Regions from separate parts of the Homo sapiens genome. Here region 1 is linked to region 2. Evidence: fine-mapped expression QTL. A gene starts in region 2. The other region holds a variant in brackets. All regions are shown on one strand. Distances are from middle to middle. Region 1 overlaps ZSWIM9 (zinc finger SWIM-type containing 9). Region 2 holds the start of LIG1 (DNA ligase 1).

Region 1 (13,512 bases), 21 kb before region 2:
ATGGAGATGAATTCATTGTGGCTCCTCTATCCATCTGGCCCCAGGAGGCCTTGTCGGTAGAAAGAATGAAGGAACGCTGGACCATCTCAACTGTTCCCTGGATCTGGGACTCCCAACCAACCCCAGAAGCCAAGAACTCATCACGGAAACCAAAATAAGATTGTTTTATTCCAATCCTGAAGAACAATAGTCCAAACAATTCCCCTCCCCTGCTGGAGACTCTCCTGACCCCCAGTGCCCGCCCTCCCTCTCTCTTCAGAAGGCGATGGGGGTCGATGTCTCCAGGTCTTGGAGAAAAACCAAAACCACGCCCCTTGCATTTCGTCTCTACCCGTCTCCCACACATTTCTTTTGTCTCATCTCCGATTTTTCTTCCCCCTCCTACATCCCGTCCCTTCCTCTCCTGCTTCCCCCAGCTTTTCCTCATGTCTTCATTTCTGTCTCTTTGCTTGTCCTCTCTCCTCCATTTCCGGCTCCCCTTTCCATTTTTTCTCGCTTACCTCCTCTCCTTCATCTGTCTTCTGTACTTTCTCCCTTTCCCCTCTCCCCGCTGCACTCCCTAGACTGGCCAGTCTACTCTTGCCAGACACTCCCCATATGATCGCTTCCTCCCCCTCCCCCCAGCTCTGCCCCTTTCCTTCCTTCTGTCCCAGCCTGACCCTGTCTACACCTCTCATCACATGCTTCCTCTCCAGAGGGAAGCCCTCAGAATCCACCCTGCCCATCAACACCTTCCCAAGCTGTGGCTCCAGGACCTCAGAGACCACTTACAGCTTGCCCTTGGACCCAGAGAGGCAAACTGCCATGAGGAGGTCCCTGGATGACCCAGAAGGTGGCCAGGGGGACTGCAACGGTCTCCTTGGCCTCAGCCCTATTATCTTTGGGATCGAAGAATGCCCTCCGACCCTCCTGGTGGAGGGTGGTGGGCAGAGGCATGAAGGGTCAGGGCTCTGGGGCTCTCCCCCAGCAATCCCTGAGCAGGTCCATGTGGAATAAGGCAGCCCCAGTGAGGAGGCGCGCTGCAAAGAGGTGTCTGCAGGGCAGACGGCGGGCGGCGTGAATTGAGCAGCTGCAGCGTGTCAGGGCCCCATCCAGGAAGAAGTCCGAGGTGCCGTCCTTAAGGGCAAAGCCAGCTCCGGTCCAGTGGAAACCCCGGGTCCCATGCTGCCTAGCAAAGGCCAACTCCTCAGCCACCAGGTCTGCCAGCTCTGGCCCGCAGGCTGCTCGGAATTTGGCCAGGGGTTCCCAGTCCACCTCCTCCTCTCCCGGGGGTCGGCAAAGCCTCTTTGGTTCCCTGGGGCCATCTTCGCCTCCTTCCTGCAGGCCGTCACCTGCAGCCAGGTGTTCACTCCTCGCCGCTGCCCATTCTGGGCTGCCTTCCAATACAGTCCCCACCGGGGTGCCAGACACGACTCCATTCCCCAGCCCTAGACACCGCCCTCCTGCGTCTCCCCACTCCATCCCTCGTCCGGCTCGGCTCTTGGGGCCCACGGACCGGGCTCCCCCTCCATCTCCATTCTCCATGCCTGTGACCCTCGTGTCTCCCAGCTGGACCAGAACTATATCCTCCAGGCCCCTTCTTCTTTTGACCCCCACCCTCGCTCCCCTCTCCTCTGCAATCTCTGGCCCTCTCCTCCTCTCATCTTCCCACTGGGGTCCCCTTTGGTCTCCGTTCTCAGGGGCCAACTCCAGGGACTTCTCCAAGGGGATCCCCCTCAAGTTTCTGACCTCCAGCCCCCTCCCCTTCTCTACTTCTGACTGTGGCCCCTTCCATTCTGCAGTTCTCAGTCCCCCTGCCCTTTCATCGTGCAGCTGCGCCCCCCTCCAGGGGCTTCCTTCAAGACTCCTGACCCTCTCATAGTCAAACTGGGTCCCCCTCAGGTCGGTGGTACTCCTGCGATCTTCCAGCTGGGCCACCCTCCAGGTATACCCTTCCAATCCTCTTAGCGCCTGGTCCTCCAACTGGGACCCCCTCCAGACATAACCTTCCAGTCCCCAATCTTTCTCACCCTCCAACTGGGGCCCCCTCCAGTCTCTAATCTCTGGCCCTCTCAGGTGCCCTTTCTCTAACTTCGACCCTCTCAAGACACCCCCTTCCAGTCCCCTCGGCTTCTGATTCTCCAACCGACCCCCTCTCCAATCTCTGATCTGCAGTGCCCTCCCCTTCTCACCTTCGAACTGAGCCCCGCCCCAGTCTCTGGTTTCCAGTGCCCTTGCCCACTCCTTCTCCATCTGGGCTCCCCTCCAAATACTTCCTTCTTTCGGAGCCCCTCCCCAGTCGCCTGTCTCCAGGCCCCTCACCCTCTCGTTCTCCCCCTGGGCTCCCCTCCCTGGCTCATCCTCCAGCCAAGGCCCCCCGCCATCGGGCCCCTCGGGCACCGCCTCCCCGGCCGCGTCGGCCCACTGCATGGCCACCAGGTCGCGAAGGCACTGCGCCACGCCACGCGAGGGGCTGAGACGACGCAGCAGTCGCCGGCGGTGGCCTCGCACCAGGGCACACGCGTCCAGGTCTCTGGCCGCCTCGAAGGCGCGGAAGCGGACCCACATGTCGCGGCGGGGCTCCCAGTTGCGCTCGAAGTAGTCCACGAAGGCGGCTGGGCCGTGGGCGTGGAGCTCGGCCAGCGCCTCGTCGTAGGCTGCGGGCGACGACGCGCCAGCCAGGCGGCACAGGCGCGACCACAGGCCCGGGTCCTCGCGGCCGGCGCCGCCCAGCTCCTGCGCCTTGCTGAAGAGCGTCTCCAGGCCCTGCGCGCGGCAGATCTGCACGCGCGCGCAGGGCAGCAGCTGGCGCACTGCAGGCAACTGCGCCGCCACCTCGGGCCCGGCGGTGAGGCAGCGCACGCGGCCCTTGACGTCTGGCGCGCTCTGCAGCAGCGACGCGAGCGCGAAGCGCAGCAGGCTCGGTGTGCCCGGGCGCGCCACGCAGCAGGCAGCCTGGCGCGCACGGCCCGAGCCGTCCACGCACAGCACGGCCAGCAGATCCAGCGCGCCCTGCAGCCCCGGCAGCCGGTCCACCAGCAGCATGCGAGGGAAGCGCCGCAGCAGCGCCCTGGTGCGCGACGTCAGGAAGAACACCGTCTCCACCACAGCCTGGTCCTCCACGAACACCAGCTTCACCTGCGGGCGGGGGCAGGGAGGCAAGGAAAGAGGTCAGAGGATGCTGGGGTCTCCCCGCCCAGCTCCCCGACCTCGGTTTCCCCTTCTACGGAAATGGGACCACCCATTCATTCTTGCCTGCATATGCATTTATTCTTTTGACCGGCAGGAGGCAGTGCAGGGAAATGGTTAAAAACACTCTGGAGCCGGATTGCCTGGGTTTGAGATCCAGGTACCACAGTCTAACGGCTATGTGATTTTTTCCACATGACACTTTTAGCTTCTCTGAGCCTCAGTTTCCTCCGCCGGAAGCTGGCTATTCATTCCTCCGTGTGCTGAGAGGCAGTCTAGGGCAGTGGGTCTCAAAATGTGGGCCCTGGACCAGCAGCATCACCATCGGTTCTTGGGACCTGGACAGAAATGCACCTTCTCGGGGCCACCTC[A/G]GACCCACTGAGTCTGAAACTCTGGGGGCGGGCCCCAGCAATCTAGTTTGACAAGCCCTCCAGGGGACTCCTATGCATGCTTAAGGATGACTGGTCTGGTGGTAATGAGCTTAGATTGTGGAGGCAGATCATTTAGCTTTGAGTCCCACCCCCAACACTTCTGAACCCTGCGATTTAACCTCTCTGTGCCTCAGTTGCCTCCTTAACCTCCATATTCCCTGATTATCCCTTCTAGGCACTGAACATTCATTTCTCCATGCACTGAGAGGCAGGACAGTGGTGAAAAGCATAGCCTCTGAGGCCAAGATCCCTGGGCTGAGATCCTGGAGCCCCTGCTTCCTGGCTGTGTGCCTTCTGCCAACTTCCCTAACCTCCCTTTCATTTGTAAAGTGATGATAATAAGAGCATCTCTGTGATTGGAAAGATGAGATGCATTCAAGCATTTAGAACATTGCCTGGTACATATATTACTGTTATTACTTATCCAACAAATAGTAAGTGTTCTGAAAGTGGCCATTATAATTATCGTCTCTGTTCAAACATCACGTCCCGCTCTTCTGTGACTTCCCAACTAAGCAGACACCCCATCTCTCTCTGCCTCCTTTTGGCCATGGCACTTACCACCCTTTGGCAAGTCATATCTTCGTTTCCTGATCTGCCCATTGCCTGCTTGCCCTCCTTAAGATGGAAGCCCCACAAGCACAGGGATGTTCCCCTTCGGGATGGTCTCTCCTGGCCTCTGCCCTATGTGGCTCTTCCCTTTGCTGATTTTATTCCGTGTCCTTCTGCTGTAATAAACTGTAGCCTTGGCTATAACAGCACCCCTGATGCTTTGAATGCTACCTGCCCTGGAACAATGGCTCAATACATCCTGAGTGAGTGAACTCACGCGAGGGTGTGCAGCCATGTCCAAGGCCACATCTGTAAGGGTGGAGGTTTAAGGATCAGACTCCTGGATTTGCCTATTAGCCGTGGGACTTCAGGCAAGTGACCTCTCCTCAATGAGCCTTGGTTCCTTGTCTGGAAAAATGGAGATGTCTATTTAACAGGGTCATGGATGGGCTAAAATGAGATCACTCCTGGCCAACGCATGGAAGGACACCTGGCGTGCATCAGCTCTCAGCCGTTCTTACCGTCTGTCTCGATCTCTCAGCAGTATTCAGCACAAGTCTACATGGCTGACCCCAATAACAACCCTGGACACCAAGGCCCAAGTAAGTGTCCCTGGCTAGCAATACATCATTGTTGTCACATGTCATTGCTGGGAGAACTGAGCACTGTCCATGGGACTTCACTGAGAGACGACATCTGGCAGCTCATGCTGGTCTCTCTTGGCCTCTGCCCTATGTGCTGCTGTTAGATAATTAAGGAATCAGAGAGACTGATGGGGTCGCCTTGTGTGGCTCTTGCCTTTGCTGATTTTACTCTGTATCCTTTTGCTGTAATAAACTGTAGCCTTGACTATAACAATTTTTCTCAGTTCTGTGATTCCTTCTAGTGAATCATGGAAACTGAGGGTGGTCTTAGGGACCCCCATCTGCACCAGAGGAGTGACTTGCCCAAGGCCACTGCGCTAACAAGCAGTGATGCTGGGATCCAATAGATCCGGGCCATTAGGAATGATTGGAAACAAAAGCAGTAGGTGGGAGAACATGCATGGGCGGCATTTTAAGGGGCAGGGTGACATTTGATGAAGGCGGGGCTATGTAAATGTGTGTGTGTGTGTGTGTGTATATATATATATATATATTTTTTTTTTTTTTTTTTTTTTTTTTTTTTTTGAGACAGAGTCTCACTCTGTCGCCCTGGCTGGAGTGCAGTGGCGTGATCTTGGCTCACTGCAACCTCTGCCTCCCGGGTTCAAGCGATTCTTCCTCCTCAGCCTCCCAAGTAGTTGGGATTACAGGTGCCCGCCACCACGCCTGGCTAATTTTTGTATTATTAGTAGAGATGGGGTTTCACCATGTTGGCCAGGCTGATGAATACATTTTTCTGCCAGATATTTACTGAGAAAATATGATGTGCCATGTGCTGGCTCAGGCACAGAGGAGAACAAATGAGACACACCACTGAGTGAGAGGAGACAGCCCCCAGGCCAAGGATAAATAAATATAAAAAAGAAGGTTTCGGGTGTGCAAAGCACACATGAAGTAGTTTCTCTGCACCAGGCACAGTTCCAACAGCTAATCTTTCATCCTTACAATATCCCTGTAAGATAGATACTATGATTCTCATTCCCCTTTTTCAGATGAGGACACCGAGGCACACACGGCTTCAGTTGCTTGCCTGGAGTCACCCATGCGATTTGCAATACCAGGTGAGCTGGGATTTGAACCCTGACAGCTTGGGTCCAGGGCTTCTTGTTCCTGACCACTCTACCCTACAGCCTTCAAAAAATTGACCAAACAGGGCTGGCTTAGGCACACAGTGGACAGCAGTGCATTTTGCAGAGATGGAGAAACCCACGGAGGAACAGATTTTGAGGATGCAGATGAATGTACGGGTGTCCTTTCAGACACACAAATTGGTAGCACGGGGAAGCATCTGCCATAGACGACAGATTCCACAAACATGAACATCAGAAACCATGCCTTTACTACTTTCCATTCACACCTCTTCCGACACGTGAGTAAACCTTCCCTTTTCCATGTGATCAGAATGTTCACATGAAACTGTTCTCCAGACTGCCCCAAAGAAAAAATTGAAGGAATAAAAATAATAGCTAAGGCTGGGCACAGTGGCTTACGCCTGTAATCCCAGCACTTTGGGAAGCCGAGGCAGGTGGATCACCTGAGGTCAGGAGTTCAAGACCAGCCTGACCAACATGGTGAAACCCCACCTCTATTAAAAATACAAAAATTAGCTGGGCGTGGTGGTGCGCGCCTGTAATCTCAGCTACTTGGGAGGCTGAGACAGGAGAATTGCTTGAACCCGGGAGGCGGAGGCTGCAGTGAGCCGAGATTGTGCCACTGTACTCCAGCCTGGGCGACAGAGAGAGACTCCATCTCAAAAAAACAAACAAACAAACAACAACAACAAAATAATAGCTAAATATTGAACATATGCAGGGCTTCCTACTTCTGGGCACGGTTCTACCCATTCTGCACACACACACACACACACACACACACACACACATACACATACACACTGCACTTTCTCACACAACAACCCCAACAGCCCTATAAGATAGTATTATCCCCATTTTACAGATAAATGAACTAAGGGTTGGAGAAGGTAAATAGGTTGTTCATAACTTGTTCCATGTCCCACAGCTAGTAACTGGCACAGCCAGAACATTCATAAAGCTTTCAGCACATAGCAACATAAATAAAATCAAGTCACCAGCTGTTACTATAACACCCCAAAATGGCTTCATGTGAAAACAGGCTATACGGCATAGAAAATATTCCCTCTGGGAGCCATGAAAAACTAGAAAAGCTGAAACTAAGCTGCAGGAGGCCTGTGTAACTACATAGCAGGGGAAACACGAGCCCCATATTCAGACAGGGCTTTGGGCGGCCCTTGATGAAACAGTACCCTGTGGTTATCTTTTGCCGCTTGCCAAGAAATTGCAGTTCTCCCTCTCCCGGGCACTTAGTAGCGTTGCACCTCCCTGCCCCCTTGCAGGTAAGCAGTGTCATGTGACTTGCTTTGGCCAATCAAGTGTGAGTGGGAGGGAGCTGCGGCATCGCATCCAAGGAGAAGCCTTCGCAGCCACCGCTGCCAGATATGGTAATTACGTTGGGCTGAATGCCCATCCTCCTGGGTCCCAGAATGACTCAGATAAACAGTACTCCCCCAACATCCCGTGGTGGCTGTGTAAGTGAGCAAGAAATAAAATTCAATGAGTTCAGCCACTGAGATTTGAGGGCTGTTCATTATTACAGCAAAACCTAGGCCATCCTGACTCACACAACCTCAAGACCCTCTATAACTCGCCCTCTAATTTTTCCTTTGAGGAGAGAAACAAATGCGTTTAGTATGTTGGGACTATTGCTTAATTTTCTTTCTTTTTTTTTTTTTTGAGATGGAGTCTCAATCTGTCACCCAGGCTGGAGTACAGTGGCATGATCTCGGCTCACTGCGACCTCCGCCACCCCAGGTTTAAGTGATTCTTCTGCCTCAGTCTCCCGAGTAGCTGGGACTACAGGCACCCACGAGCATGCCTGGCTAATTTATGTATTTTTAGTAGAGACGGGGTTTCACCATGTTGGCCAAGCTGGTCTCAAACTCTTGACCTCAAGTGATCCACCCACCTCAGCCTCTCGAAGTGCTGGGATTACAGGTGTGAGCCACTGCGCCCACCTTCTATTTTCATCTTCTTTTTAAGAATTAATTATTTGAATATGCAAACATCCACATGGTCCTAAAGTCAAATAATGTAAAGCGATACATAAAAGGTCTTACTCCCACCTCTTTAGTCTAATCAGTCAGTTTCCATTCACTATTCTACCCTCATCCACAGTTCTTGGTATTCTTCTAGAGTTTCTTTATATGAGTACAAGTAAGCATACCTATAATTCTTATTTGCTCTATTTTATAGATAATACAGCATATTATGTACAGTTTTGCATTTTGCTTTTTTAACTTAAAAATGTGTTTGAGAGATCTTTCAAAATAGTTCCTAGACTTGTTCTTATTCTTTTTTTTTTGTTTGTTTAGGATGGAGTCTCACTCTGTCGCCCAGGCTGGAGTGCAGTAGCACGATCTTGGCTCGCTGCAAGCTACGCCTCCTGAGTTCACACCATTCTCCTGCCTCAGCCTCCCGAGTAGCTGGGACTACAGGTGCCTGCCACCATGCCTGGCTAATTTTTTGTATTTTTAGTAGTGACAGGGTTTCACCATGTGAGCCAGGATGGTCTTGATCTCCTGACCTTGTGATCTGCCCGCCTCGGCTTCCCAAAGTTCTCATTCTTTTTTAGTGCTGTGTAGTAATCCATGGATGGATATACCACAAGTTATGTAACCATTACCCGTTGGTGGAGTCTGGGTTGTTTCTAATCTGCTGCTTTCACAAACAACAATGATTAACCTTGTAAGTAAGTCCTTCCACAGCTGTGCAACTACATCTGCAGGATAAATCACCAGTAGTGGGATTGTGAGCCTAAGGGTGAGTGTTCTTGTCATTTTGATAGATATTGCTAAATTGCCCTCCACTGAGATCATACCAGCTTCCCATGGAGTATTCTTTTTTTTTGAGATGGAGTCTCGCTCTGTCACCCAGGCTGGAGTACAGTGGTGTGAGCTCAGCTCACTGCAAGCTCCGCCTTCCGGGTTCACGCCATTCTCCTGCCTCAGCCTCCCAAGTAGCTGGGACTACAGGCGCCTGCCACCACACCTGGCTAATTTTTTGTATTTTTAGTAGAGACGGGGTTTCACCATGTTAGCCAGGCTGGTCTCGATCTCCTGACCTCGTGATCCACCCGCCTCAGCCTCCCAAAGTGCTGGGCTTACAGGTGTGAGCCATCACGCCTGGCCCCATTGAGTATTCTTAAAAGGGATACACTTGCATCAATGCTCGCCATTCTCAGAAGGCAAAGCATACACGTAAGAGAACGCTGCAACGTTTCCGGGCAAGGTCTCTCTTTTCAGGGCTTGCTTGCTGGTTACCCTGGTGCCTGCCACAAGTGAGGGAATGGAGATGTGACTGGACCCCAAAGCCCATCATCATCAGGCAGGGCAGGTGATAAAAGGTGTTAAAGGTTGGGTGCGGTGGCTCACGCCTGTAATCCCAGCACTTTGGGAGGCCGAGGCAGGCAGATCACCAGGCCAGGAGATCGAGACCATTCTGGCCAACATGATGAAACCCCATCTCTACTAAAACACACACACACAAAATTAGCCAGGCCTGGTGGCGCACGCCTGTAGTCCCAGCTACTCAAGAGGCTGAGGCACAAGAATCACCTGAACCTGGGAGATGGAGGTCGTGCTGAGCCAAGATTGCGCCACTGCACTCCAGCCTGGGAGACAGAGCGAGACTCCATCTCAAAAAAAAAAAAAGGTATTAACACCTCCCTGGGTGAAGTCGCCCCCCAGTCTTGCCCTTAAATCATGCCTTGTGGCTTTGGGCGCATCCTTCTTGTCTGATCCCCTCCAAAGATCAAGAGAGCAACCCAACTCAGGAAGTGCAGGCACTTTTTACAAATAATCCTTCCTTTGGAAGACTGCTGGGAAGTGGAAAGACTGATTGTTGCTTGACCTAGGCTTGGGATGAAAATTTAAAGCTTGCTGTCTGTCTGTCTATCTATCTATCTATCTATCTATCTATCTATCTATCTATCTATCTATTTAAAGGGTCTCACTCTGTTGTCAAGGCTGGAGTACAGTGGTGTGATCATAGCTTACTGCAGCCTGAAGCTCCTGGGCTCAAGCAACCCTCGTGCCTCAGCCTCTTGAGTAGCTGGGACTACAGATGCATGCCACCATGCCTAATTTTTTTTTTTTTAATTTTTTGTAGAGACAGGTGCTCGTTATGTTGGCCAGGCTGGTCTTGAACTCCTGGGCTCAAGTGATCCTCTCGCTTCGGCCTCCCAAAGTGCTGAGATTACAGGTGTGAGCCATCGCACCTATTATATTATCAATATTACATGTTATGCGTTACATATTATAATATTAATATAATATATAATATTATATTATATAATATATAATATATATAATATTATATATAATATATATAATATAATATAATAATAATATAATATATAATATATATAATATAATATAATATATTATAATATAATATATAATATATATAATATATATAATTAATATATAATATATAATATATATAATATAATATAATATATAATTATAATATATAATTAATATAATATATTAATTATTACATTATACTGTTATATTACTACTGTATTATTAACATAATAATATAGAACTCTTTCATTAGATTTTATAAGTGAAAAAAAGGTGAAATTTCTGTGTAAAAGTGATGGATTGAACACCTCTCTAGTTTCACTCTCTCTTGAACCTCAATTACATCTTTTTTTTAAAATGGCTTTTTTTTTTTTTTAAATCAGAGGCAATATGATAGGGACAGAACTTTGGAAACTGGAAAGCAGCTGGACATGCTAATCCCACCCCACCCCTAAAAACCCATGAATCCTAAGCCAGCAATTGAGGGATGCTGAGAACCGGTAGCAAAGTCCTCAAAAGGAGCTGGCAACACCAGGCCAGTTTTGCAGAAGGCAAAATAAAGACGAACTGAGGGCTGTTTCAGCAGCAGCTAGACCTCCAAATCTCGTTTCCCCTCTCCCCTTACTCTTCCCCCACCCCCAGTGACTGGGGGTTTATTCTGTAGACAGGGTGAAACAGAAAGGGGCCGCTGGCTTTGGGGACATCTGGCCCATCTGAAGATGAGGGAGGGGGATTCTGAACCCCAAGTGGGTACTGAGTGCGTCTTGCTGGCTGAATGCCTGACAGCTCCCTGCCTCTGCCCCTGCAGCTCCCAGAAGCTGGCAGCCTGGCCCTGGCAGCCTGGCCTTCACCCCCCGCCAGGAGGCCAGAGGAGTTTTCTCAGGGGGATTTGACCAGCCCCAGAGGAAGAACGAAAGATGGTGACATCTGGCACTCCCCAACGTATAAAGCAAGATGCAAAACAGCATGTACAGGCCGGGTGTGGTGGCCCCGACCTGTAATCCCAGCACTTCAGGAGGCCAAGGTGAGTGGATCACTTGAGGTCAGGAGTTTGAGACCAGCTTGGCCAACATGGTGAAACCTCGTCTCTACTAAAAATACAAAAATTAGCCAGGCATGGTGGTGCATGCCTATAGTCCCAGTTACTCAGGAGGCTGAGGCAGGAGAATCACTTGAGCCCAGGAGGTGGAGGTTATAGTGAGCCAACAGCGTGCCACTGCACTCCAGCCTGGGTGACAGGAGTGAAACCCTGTCTCAAAGAACAAACAAACAAACAAACAAAAACAGCGTGTACACTAGGCTGCCCTGCTTGCTGGGGGTGGGGGGTGGCGGGGCAGAAAGAGGAAATAAAGTTAAAAATTAAAGTTAAACATACAGACATGCAAATTGACCTGTATATGTGCAGAGCTGCGCTGTCCAATCCAGAAGCCACTAGCTACATTAGGTTGTTTACATTTCGATAAATTAAATGACAAATTCAGTTCCTCAGTCATACTGGCCTCATTAAGCATTCTGTAGCCATGTGTGGCCAGTGGCCTCTGGATTGGACAGTACAGATAAGAACCATTTTCTTTCTTTTTATTTTTTTAGACAAGAGTGTCACTCTGTTACCTAGGCCAGAGTACAGTGGCATAATCTCAGCTCACTGCAACCTCTGCCTCCTGGGTTCAAGCGATTCTTGTGCCTCAGCCTCCCGAGTAGCTGAGATTACAGGCACCTGCCACCATGCCTGGCTAATTTTGAATTTTTAGTAGAGATCAGGTTTTGCCATGTTGGCCATGCTGGTCTCGAACTCCTGCCATCAGGTGATCCATCTGCCTCAGAGTCCCAAAGTGCTGGGATTACAGGTGTGAGTAACCATGCCTAGCCTGGATAAGGAACATTTCTATCATTGTAGAAAGTTCCACCGGGCAGTGCTGGTCCATAGGATAGAAAGCGAGATATGATTTATAAGCTGCTAATAACTCTGCAGGGGAGGGGACCTGGGGGACAGGATGTGATAAGACTTTTCACCACATACCTTTTTTAGAACCATGTGAATGTATGACATATTCAAAAAGTAAATATTTAAATGTTGCTTCACTAATCTGTCTCTCCTGTCCTAGAACTTCTTCCTCCTTTCTTTCAAGAGCATTAAGGGGCTGGGCACGGTGGCTCATGCCTGTAATCCCAGCACTTTGGGAGGCCAAGGCGGGGGGATCACCTGAGGTCAGGAGTTCAAGACCAGCCTGACCAACATGGAGAAACCCCGTCTCTTCTAAAAACACAAAAATTAGCATGGTGGCGCATGCCTGTAATCCCAGCTACTCAGGAGGCTGAGGCAGGAGAATCGTTTGAACCCGGGAGGCGGAGGTTGCGGTGAGCCAAGATTCCGCCATTGCACTCCAGCCTGGGTGACAAGAGCGAAACTCCGTCTCAAAAAAAAAAAAAAAAAAAGTATGAAAGCAGGTCAAAACACAGACGCAGGAGCCAACCGTGGTTTAGCCGAGATTCCAAGACAGCCTTCAAAATGAAAAGACAACTCCCCTTCCAGGGAAGGCTCTGATCTATGAATGAGCTGTTCTGCACAGGGACAATCCTGCAGAGGGTGGGTTCAGGGAAGAACAGCTGAGGCTTATTTATGTCATGGTGGGTAGTGGAGGAGAGTTACTAGATCAGCAAAGACCAGTGGAGTAGGAAGTGCATGTGTGTTTGTCCCCATGGTGAAGGTCATGGGTCTGGATCCAGGCTGTGTGGGTCCGAAGCCCAGCTCTGTCACTAAATAGCTGTGTGACTTTGAGCCAGTTACTTGACTTCTCTGTGCTTCAGTTTCCTTGTCTGTAAAATGGGGATGAGAATGGTGGACTATTTCCTCATAGGGCTCAGGTGAGATGAAAATGAGTTATAGTATGTAAAGCACTTAGGGTAGTGCCTGGCATATAGTAAGTGCTTGATAAACATTAGCTAAAATTATTATTATGTCGGGACAGAGGCCTGGGCTTGGGCTGGTGGCTTGAATCAGGGCTTCTTACTGGGCATGAGATGAAGACAGGAAGAGTGTGCCAGAGCTGAATCTCGACTTTACCCTGCCTTGGGACCTCTTCCACACACAAGGGAGACAAAGGCACAGCCAGGAGGAGAAACCAGTTCTTCCCCTACTTTCTCATCTTTCTTTCCTCTTTAAACTTCAAGTTCACCCCAAACTTGAAGTTGGATTAAAGCCGCAGAGATTCCTTATGGAGCAGCAGCCATCCTCACTGTTCCTCCAACACAAGCTTGCTCGTGCCTCTGGGCCTTTGCACTGGCTGTTCCTTCTGCCTAGAATTCTCTTCCCTCT
Region 2 (10,125 bases):
TGAAGGGCATGCACATAGTAGGTGCTCAATAAGCATTTGTTACATTGGAACTGGGTTCTGTTAATAGGTTTCAGATTAGGCCTGAGCTTCTTTGAGCTTCTTGCAAGCTCTAACGTTCTAGGTTTCTGGGTGATGTGTGTGTTTGATGCTGTTCCACTTTCAGATCTCCGAGTCTCTGTTTCTAGAATAAGTAGTGAGAAAGAAGTTGCAAGAATGTATTTCACAATACATGTTTAAATAACTACCGGTGAAAGAGCTGTTAAGAGTGTGCTTACTCTGTGCTGGATGCCTTTCTGAATAATTTACCTATGAGATAGACACTATTATGTCTCCCATTTTCCACATGAGGAAACTGAGGCCACAGAAAGGTGAAGTCACTCACTCAACAGCATCCACCAAGCATCAGCAGCACAATGGCCCAGAGTCCATGCTCTCGAATCCTGTAACAGCTATCACTTAACCAGCCACCCCATGTTCCAGGCACCAGGGTTATGTGTTTTTCTCATGTATGATCTCACAGTATCCTCACAATGGCCCCATGAGGCGGGTATCGTGATAACCCCATTTCAAAGGATGAGAAAACTGAGGCTTGGAGATGTGAAGTCCATTGCCCAAAGTCACCCATCCAGGAAGTCGTGGAGCATGTCTCAGGCAGCCTAAAGGCAGAGCCTGTGTTCTTAAGCACTCTGTTCTTGTCTACAGCTCCCCAACCAAGGGTCTCAAACTCACACACCTACTGGGACCAGGCAGGCAAAACAAGCAAAAGACAGTGCTAGGGATGAGGCAGCAGAGAGTGGCAGGGTTTGGGGCAAACCTGGGCAGCAAAGCCCCATCCAAGAGGGGTGGCCGTCTGCCAATGGAAACATGGGCTCACCTCTTCCGGTGTTCCAGTGGAAGCTGGAAACCTAACTGTGTGGGGAACAACCCCTGTTTAAAACTGGGGTCAGACCAGGCACCGTGGCTCACACCTGTAATCCCAGCACTTTGGGAGGCCAAGGCAGGCAGATCACCTGAGGTCGGGAGTTCAAGACCAGCCTGGCCAACATGGTGAAACCCTAAAAATACAAAAATTAGCTGGGCATGGTGGCGCATGCCTGTAATCCCAGCTACTGGGGAGGCTAAGGCAGGAGAATTGCTTGAGCCCAGGAGGCTGAGGTTGCAGTGAGTGGAGATTGTGCCACTGCACTCCAGTGTGGATGGCAGAGCAAGACTCCGTCTCAAATAAAATAAAATAAAATAAAGTAAAATAAAATTGGGGTCAATTTGGCTGGGTGTGGTGGCTCATGCCTGTAATCCCAGCATTCTGGGAGGCCGAGGTGGGCAGATCACCTCAGCCTCCTTGAGGTCAGGAGTTCGAGACCAGCCTGGCCAACATGGTGACACCCCATCTCTACTACAAATACAAAAATTAGGTGGGCATAGTGGCACACACCTGTAGTCCCAGCTACTTGGGAGGCTGAGGTGGGGGAATCTCTTGAACCCAGGAGTTGGAGGTTGCAGGGAGCCAAGATCGCACTACTGCTCTCCAGCCTGGGCAACAGAGTAAGACCCTGTCTCAAAAAAATAAAGACTAAATAAAATACAATTGGGGTCCATTAAAATACCCCTGGCCACCTGGGTGTGATTCTGGCTCTCCTGGATTTCTCACCTGCCCCTCTTTGCACAGTTGTAGGGAACTACCTGTGAGCTTGTTCTTTTAACGTCAATCTTTCTGTCCAGTCAGAAAGTACCAGAAGGGCAGGGATTTTTGTCTCTTGCCCAACTCCATCGCTCCAACTAGAATATCCCCAGCCCACAGCATGGGACCTGGCCCCTTATTCACTGAATAGATGGATCCTTTTCTTTATCCTGCGGCTTCTCTGCAGTTCAGTCTCCCAGTCTCTGTCTCCCAGTCTTTGTCACGTGTACAAAACCTGGCTCTTCTGTTTCCCTGGCTGTCTCTGGTGTCTCTGCCTCCATGTCTCCATGTTTCTGGAATTTTCCGTGACTATTTTCTCCTCTTGGGGTGTGTGTGTTTTACGCTCTGCCTCTCGAAGTCTCTATTACATTCTGTAAGTCAGGCCGGGCACAGTGGCTCGCGGCTGTAATCCCAGCACTTTGGGAGGCAAGACGGGCAGATCACCTGAGGTCATGAGTTTGAGACCAGCCTGGCCAACATGGTGAAACCCCATCTCTACAAAAATCCAAAAATTGGCCAGGCGTGGTGGCGCGTGCCTGTAATCCCAGCTACTCAGGAGGTTGAGGCAGGAGAAACAACGCTTGAACTCGGGAGGTGGAGGTTGCAGTGAGCCGAGATTGTGCCATTGCACTCCAGCCTGAGTGACAGAGCAAGACTCTGTCTCAAAAAAACAACACAAAGCAAAACAAAACAAAAACAAAAACAAAAAACCACACAAAAATTAGCCGGGCATGATGGCAGGTGCCTGTAGTCCTAGCTACTCGGGAGGCTGAGGCGGGAGAATCACTTGAACCTAGGAGGTGGAGGCTGCAGATGGCACCACTGCACTCAAGCCTGGGCGACAGAGCGAGACTCCATCTCGAAAAAAAAAAAAAAGTCTGTAAGTCGGGCCCACACCATCTCTTGCTCCGTGAGTATCTTTGTCTCTCTAGCTCCTCTTCTTCTCTCAGTACATGTCCCTCCTTGACTCCCGCCTCTCTGCAAGGTGTATTTGGCTGCCTCAGTTGGCCTCTCCCCCTCTGCATCTCTGGGTGGGGTGTTCTCTGCCCGTCTCCCACCCACACCCACCCCCGGTGCTCCCCTTCCCCCCAGCAGGACAGCGGCTCAGGTTCACGCACCCCACGGCGGGCCGGCTGGGCGCACGCACGTCCTTGCACACAAGCCGCACGTAGCTGTACTTGAGCACGTCGATGAGCGTGTAGAGCGGGGGCGCACTGGCCCAGCGGCAGCGCGCCAGGTGCATGGAGCTCTTGACGAAGAAGAGCGCCAGCCGCTGCTGGCACCACGCGTCGAAGAAGCGGCTGAACTCGGCCCACGAGAAGAAGGCCCGCTCCCGCAGCTCCTGCTCCTCCTGCCCCGCAGCCGTGCCGGGTGGGGGCTCCGGCCGCTCCATCCTGGGGGCCTGCGTGGAGGAGGGGAGAACAGGTGGATATCAGACCCATTCCCACCCGGGGTATCTCATCTACTCCATTCTTGGCCTGCCCCGTCGGTTGCTGGTGCCTCTATCGAGGTGGGTAGCCCGGGGTCGGACGTGCCTGTTTTTCTCCAAATATATAAATATCAACCTCCATCCTATCTTTGGCCTCCTCCCACCGCCTTATCCCTGGTTCACTTGGAGCCTGTCATCTTGATTCCTAATTCCAACTCGTCTCCTCCTCCGCAGATGTGACCCTTAGGTACAGTTGGAATCTCTCCTCCCAAAATACGACCCTTAAGCTCAGATGTCCCTTAAGGACATCTCCTCAAATGTGTTCTCAAATTCCAGCTAAAACCTCCTCCCCTTCCAGCTGTGTCTCTCACCCAAGAGTAACTTCTAACTCTCGTATTCATCTGGAACTCCTCCTTCCATGTGCCAACAGTTGGCTGTAACCCCTCCAAAGACGCTCCATCTCCAGATGTGCTCCCACATCCAGGCCACGGACCCCTCACCCGGTCACATGCTTCATGCACCTGTGGCTCCGCACTCCCCAGATGTGCCTCTGGCGTGCAGCTGTTGCCCCTTCCCCCGATTATGACCCTATGGCTCGCCACATGCAGCTGTAGCTGGGGCTTCCCTGAGACACTCTCATCTCCAGATGTACTCCCCACATGCAGTTATCCACGCTTCGCCTACAGGTGTGTGCCCCACTTGTGGCTAGTTCTCCTCGGAAGTGTCACCAGTATTCACCTGTGGTCCCCTCCTCCTCAGATGCGGCCCCCAGTCCAGCTGTGGGCCCCTCCTCCCAGTTACATCCACCATCCCCCGCAATATGCATCTTCGTTCTAGACATGGCCCCTCGTCCTCGGATGGGCTCCTTCACCCCAGATGCTCCCCCCACGTCCAGCTGCGCGTCTCCCCTCGAGCAGCCCCATCCAGCCCGCTCCCGACCCTCCTACTCCCCCCCTCCCCGCCCGCTGCGGCACCTTCCAGCCCCGCCGTCCCACCTAGCTGTGCCTCTCCCCTCCCCAAGATGTGCACCCTTCCCGCCCCTCCCCACTCACCTACCCGCCCCGGAGCGGCGTCCACCTCCCACAATGCCCCGCGCCCAGGCCTGGCCCGGCCCTTGCTCCCGGGATGCCCCGCGCGGTCTCCCGCCTCTCTTCCCGCCGTGCCTCGCGGGGGCGCTTCCACCGATTCCTCCTCTTTCCCTGCCAGTCACTCCTCAGACCCTCAGCCACACCCGCTCATCCAGGGCGAGGGAAAGCGCGGGCATTTTCCCAGTGTGCTCTGCGGGAGGGCTCGCCCCACTTCACCCCTTTTCCCGCCCTCCTCCCATTCGGGAGACTACGACTCCCAGTGTCCTCCGCGCGACGGCGGCGGTGCGGACGGTGCCCAGGTCCCGCCCCTAGGCTCTGCCCCGCCCCCGCCCGCAGACGTCTGCGCGCGAATGCCGTGGCGCGAACTTGGGACTGCAGAGGCGCGCCTGGCGGATCTGAGTGTGTTGCCCGGGCAGCGGCGCGCGGGACCAACGCAAGGCAAGTGGGGCCGTCCGCAAGCAGATGGGAGGCGGAGGGCGGCGGGTGCGCCGAATGCTTGGGGCCTATGCTTCGCCATGTCGGGGTGTCTGCAGAGGAGTGGGCGTGGGGACGCTGAGGCTGCCGAGAGCGCGGTGGAGACGGAAGAGCGCGGGCTGCGGGCCGCCGGAGAGTGCAGAGAGGTGTCTCCCAGAGGGAGGGGGGCCAGGTAGAGGGTAGACGAGAGACAGAGACAGTTGGACAGGTCCTCTGAGAAGAGGCCTTGAGGTGCGAGTTCACCTGGAAAGGGGAGAGGCCAAATGGAACTGAGGGGCGGGGCCGGGGGGGGGAAAACTGTGTGGGCGGGGCCAGCTGGAAATCGGAAGGCCCCCCGAGGGGGCGGGGCTATCTGGGAGGGGGAGGGGCTGAAGGGAGCTAAGGGGCGGGGCCGGGGAAAAGATTGCGTGTGGGCGGGGCCACCTGGAAGGGGGAGGTGCCAAGGGTGGGGCTGGCTGGGAACCGGAAGTGCTGAGGGGGCGGGGGCCACCTGGAAGTGCTGAGGGGGCGGGGCTAGAAGAAGGTAAATCGCGGGCAGCAGCATCACCTGGAAGGAGTGGGCCCTACTGGAGGGAGATGGGTGGTGTCAGGGAGAGGTCAGTGGTAAGGTCCAGGTCTAGGTAAAGGGCTCGTAAAAGATGGAGAATCATCTGAATGGGGAGACGTCTGGCCTAATGTATGCTTGATAAAGGGATGGAGCTTACCTCTTGTTTTTACTTTTTATTTTGAAATAATTATAGATTCAAGGAAGTTGTGAAAAGAGTATATCCATCTTCCCCTAATGGTGACATCTTATGTAGTCCCAATATCGAAACCAGGAAATTGACATCAATACAGTTCTGTTAACTAGATTACAGACCTTGTTCAGTTTTCACCAGTTTGTGTGGTGTGAGTGTGATTGTGCATCTGTGTGCCCGTGCAGCTTGATTCCTTGTATAGATTTGTGTAACCCCCATCGTAATTGTGATATAGAACAGTTCCCTCTCCACATAAGAACTCCTCCCCAGGCCCCTGGCAACCGCTAATGTGTTCACCATCTCTAGTTTTGTCATTCGGAGATTGTTATGTAAATGGAATCATATATTATTAGGATGTTACCTTTTTTCTACTCTGCACAATGCCCTGGAGGTCCACCCAAGTTGTTGCTTGTATCAGTGCTTCGTTTCTTTTTATTACTGAGTACTGTTTCATCCTTACTTGATATTTTTCCTGTCATTATCTCTTCATTTTGGTAACCGCTTTATTGAGATATAATTCACAATTATACAGTTTGCCCATTTAAAGTGTACAATTTTGCCCATTTAAAATGTACAAGTCAGCGGTTTTCAGTGTATTTAAAGTGTATTTCAGTGTATTTAAAGTGCCCATTTAAAGTGTACAAGTCAGTGGTTTTCAGTGTATGCGCTGAGTTGTGCAGTTATTACCATAATCGATTTTAGGATATTTTTATCATCCCCCCAAAAAACTCCTATACCTTTTATCCATCATTCATTTAATTTTAACCCTGAACAATATTCTACCATATGGTATTCCAGTAATGAGGGAACCAGTTCCCTAAGGGTAGACATTCCACCAGTTTCCAGTCTTCTCTCATTACAGTTAGTGCTGCAGCAGGTAACTTTGTGCCTCACTTGGTCCACCTGTGAGGGTCTCTGTGGGCCAAATACACAGAAGTGGGGTTGCCGTTCCGATAGAGACGCCAGGTGGTCCTCCAGAGGCATCAACCAGTTTGTTCCCCCCAACTCAGCAGTACACAGAGTTGAGAAGCCAGCCTTGAGTACCGTGGTAAGGAGAAAGGAACGTGGGCTTTGGAGCCAGCCACACCGGGTTTTGAAGCCTTGCCTGAACCCCAGCTATGTTCCTCTGTCCTCATTACCTTCATCTATAAAGTGGGGATGATCTCACCTGTCTTGGAGGGCTGACTTGAGGATTGAGGGTATTTGAGAATGTGATCAGCCTGTCAGGCATAGAGTAGGCTTCCCAGTAAACGCTTATGTATTTCTCCTTCCCTTGCAACTCAGTCTGGTGGTTAAGAGGTGAGCTGTGGAGCAGGCCGACCTGGGGTGGAACGTACTATAGATGCAGGTTAAGTTCCTTTGAAAACCCCTCTGTGCCTTAGTTTCTGTAACAGAGTTGTTGTGGAGAGTCAGTATAATTGAGAATGTCAAGTACCTAGGCAGTTGAGCACTCAGGAGGGATCGTAATAGTTTTCTCCTTTGCCCTCAGGATTTTGGTGGCTAAGTCCCTAACCTGCTTTCTGTGTGAACTGTTTGGTTGAAGCATTGCTTACTTCCTGCTCCCCAACTGGCCCTGAGAAACTCTGTTTGGAAATTGCTGAGTTTCTTTTTTGTTTGTTTTTTTTTTTTTTTTTTTTTTTTTAAGACGGGGTCTCGCTCTGTCGCCCAGGCTGGAGTCCAGTGGTGCAGTCTCAGCTCACTGCAACCTCTGCCTCCTGGGATCAAGTGATTCTCCTGCCTCAGCCTCCTGAGTAGTTGGGATTACAGGCTGGCACCACCATGCCTGGCTAATTTTTTGCATTTTTAGTAGAGATGGGGTTTCACCATGCGGGCCAGGCTGGTCTTGAACTCCTGACCTCGTGATCCGCCTGTCTCAGCCTTCCAAAGTGCTGGGAGTACAGGCGTGAGCCACAGTGCCGGCCTACTGAGTTTTTTGATTCCAAAATTGAGTTTGAGTTGTGGTGCCAACATGTGGCGGCCAAGGCTGTAGAGAGTAGTGGAGACTTAGAGGCGTGTGGTGCGGGACAGAGAGTACTGATTCCAGAAAACGAAAGGGGACCCCATGGGTTGAAGAAGATTTCTGTGCAAAGGAAGGGAAAGTCAAAGAAAACCATTTCTGTTGCCCAGGCTGGTCTGAGCTGGTCTCAACTCAAGCAATCCACGCAGAGGTCCTGCTAGTCCTTTTTTAAAAAATATATTCATAGTGGAAGGAAATATAATGTAAATAATTATAATTACATAATTATAATGTGTAATTTATTTTCTTCCATTATAAATATTAAAGATATAGAAAATTTATAATTTTTTATATCTTTAATATTTATAATGGAAGGAAAGGCTCAGTTCCAATTAGAAGTTTACAAGAATAAAGTCGTAATTTCTTTCCTGTCAAATTTCATAGACCACTTGAGTTCTGCTCTTGGACTCCTGGGTTTTGTGGACCCCAGATTAAGAACCCTTTCTTTTCTTTTTCTTTTTCTTTCTTTTTCTTTCTTTTTTTTTTTTTTTGAGACAGAGTGTTACTCTGTTGCCCAGGCTAGAGTGCATGATCTCACTGCAACCTCCACTTCCTGGGTTCAAGTGATTCTCCTGCCTCAGCCTCCCCACTAGCTGGGATTACAGGTGTGCACCACCATACCTGGCTAATTTTTGTATTTTTAGTAGAGATGAGGTTTCACCATGCTGGCCAGGCTGGTCTCGAACTCCTGACCTCAGGCGATCCACCCGCTTCGGCCTCCCAAAATGCTGGGATTATGGGCAGCAGCCACCACGCCCGGCCTAGGAACCCTTTCATTAGAGTTACTCTAAACTGTGGAAGCCCCAGTGACTGTTATTGATTTCATTAAATAACAGACTTTTTAAAAAAGTATTTAATTTTTAAAAATATATTGTGAAGGGGTAACGTATTCCAATTGTTCTGCCTGCAAAAGCATGCATATTAAAAAATCTCCCTCCAGCGTCTGTCCCTCCTGAGGCGACAGCATTACCAGTTTTTTGTCTTCCAACTGAGATGTTCTGTACATATACAAGATATGTGGATACATTTATAGTCTTTCTTTTGTTTTTGTTTTTTGAGATGGAGTTTCACTCTTGTCCAGGCTGGAGTGCAGTAGCACAATCTCGGGTCACTGCAGCCTCTACCTCCCGGGTTCAAGCGATTCTCCTGCCTCAGCCTCCAGAGTAGCTGGGAATACAGGCGCGTGCCACCGCACCTGGCTAATTTTTGTATTTTTAGTAGAGACAGGGTTTTGCCATGTTAGCCAGGCTGGTCTTGAACTCCTGACCTCAAGTGATCCACCCACCTCGGCCTCCCAAAGTGCTGGGATGACAGGCGTGAGCTACTGTGCCTGACCTATAGCCTTTCTCTTTTACACAGTTCAGTAGCACACACTCTGTGATATTCTGCCCTTTGTTTGAAATAACAGCATACCTTAGAAACTGCCCAAGAGCTAATTTATGTAGACCAGCGGGTACAATTTTATAAGCTTCCACAGTTGTTTCACGGAATTATGTCATCACCTTAAAACAATTTTTCACTAACCTTTAAACTTAACTCCAAAAAAACCCATTTCAGGTCCTCAGTCTATTCCTCATATTAGATGAAAAACAGTCTTCTTATGGTAAAGGAGGCCTCTTATCTTTTTCTCTGATTTGGAGCTTTTATTCTGCACCAGTAAATCTCACCAGCAAATTATTTTGGTTCATAAAAACAGGAGTTTCTTTTTGAAGGGGAAATTCATGTTTCTGTTTTTTTTTTTCTTTCTTTCTTAAAGAAAGGGTTTTATGTGTGTTTAGATCTCTGCACAACCAATCACCTCAACAAGTGTTTGGATTTCTGTTCCAGGAGCAGCTGACAGACGAAGAAAAGTGCTGGACAGGAAGGGAGAATTCTGACGCCAACATGCAGCGAAGTATCATGTGAGCACCCTCCCTTGCCCCTGAGTCTTTCCTTCTCCAAGTCCTCTGTTTCTTTCTCTAAATCTGTACTTAAAAAAACAAACAAACAAACAAAAACTCTTACGTTAGATTTTGAGTTGGAATTTCCAGGAGTCAAGTAGTATGGAAAATGAGCCGTGGGATATGGAAGACAGTGTATTGAACAACAGTTTTTAGTTGCAAGGAGCAGAAACCCTAACGCAGTGGTTCTCAGTCAGCAGCAATTTTGCTCCCCAGGGAACATCTGGCAGCGTCTGGAGATTTTTTTTTTTTGAGTTGGAGTCTTGCTCTGTCACCCAGGCTGGAGTACAGTGGCGCAATCTCGGCTCACTGCAACCTCCGCCTCATGAGTTCAAGTGATTCTCCTGCCTCAGCCTCCTGAGTAGCTGGGATTATAGGCACGTGCCACCACGCCTGGCTAATTTTTGTATTTTTAGTAGAGACGGGGTTTCACCACGTTGGTCAGGCTGGTCTCAAACTCCTGACCTCGTGATCCGCCCACCTCGGCCTCCCAGAGTGCTGGGATTTCAGGCGTGAGCCACGGCGCCCGGCCAGTGTCTGGAGATATTTTTGGTTGTTACAACCTAGGGACAGAGGGTTTGCCATTGGCATCTAGTGGCTAAAAGCCAGGCATGCTGCTAAACATCCTTCAATTCATAGGACAGCCCCCCCAACAACACAGAACCATCAGGCCCAACATGTCAATAGTGTCTAGGTTGAGAAACCTCGTGTTAATGCAGTCCGGCTTCAGGAAGACAAGAAAGGGCATGACTTGACTTATAT

What was found. PIP is the estimated chance that this variant, and not a neighbour inherited with it, causes the effect.
Region 1: its variant is the best candidate, but not a certain one, in a credible set for the expression of LIG1 in whole blood (INTERVAL, PIP 0.86).

Annotation. Positions count from the first base shown.
Region 1 is chr19:48,184,258-48,197,769 of GRCh38, reverse strand. It overlaps ZSWIM9 (zinc finger SWIM-type containing 9), which reads right to left. Exons shown (of 4, transcript NM_199341.4): 4 at 150-3,117. The coding sequence ends at 943. Among named protein-coding and RNA genes, the nearest start is that of ZSWIM9, 20 kb to the right of the region's middle. RefSeq lists enhancers at 744-1,256, 10,968-11,027 and a silencer at 9,142-9,374. The variant A/G (reference allele first, on the strand shown) is at 3,540.
Region 2 is chr19:48,164,749-48,174,873 of GRCh38, reverse strand. LIG1 (DNA ligase 1) reads left to right here and starts at 4,530. Exons shown (of 28, transcript NM_000234.3): 1 at 4,530-4,633; 2 at 9,251-9,324. The coding sequence starts at 9,308. ZSWIM9 (zinc finger SWIM-type containing 9) reads right to left here and starts at 4,194. Exons shown (of 4, transcript NM_199341.4): 1 at 4,160-4,194; 2 at 2,797-3,080. The coding sequence starts at 3,071. RefSeq lists silencers at 4,002-4,141, 4,942-4,991, 5,022-5,091 and an enhancer at 4,389-5,048.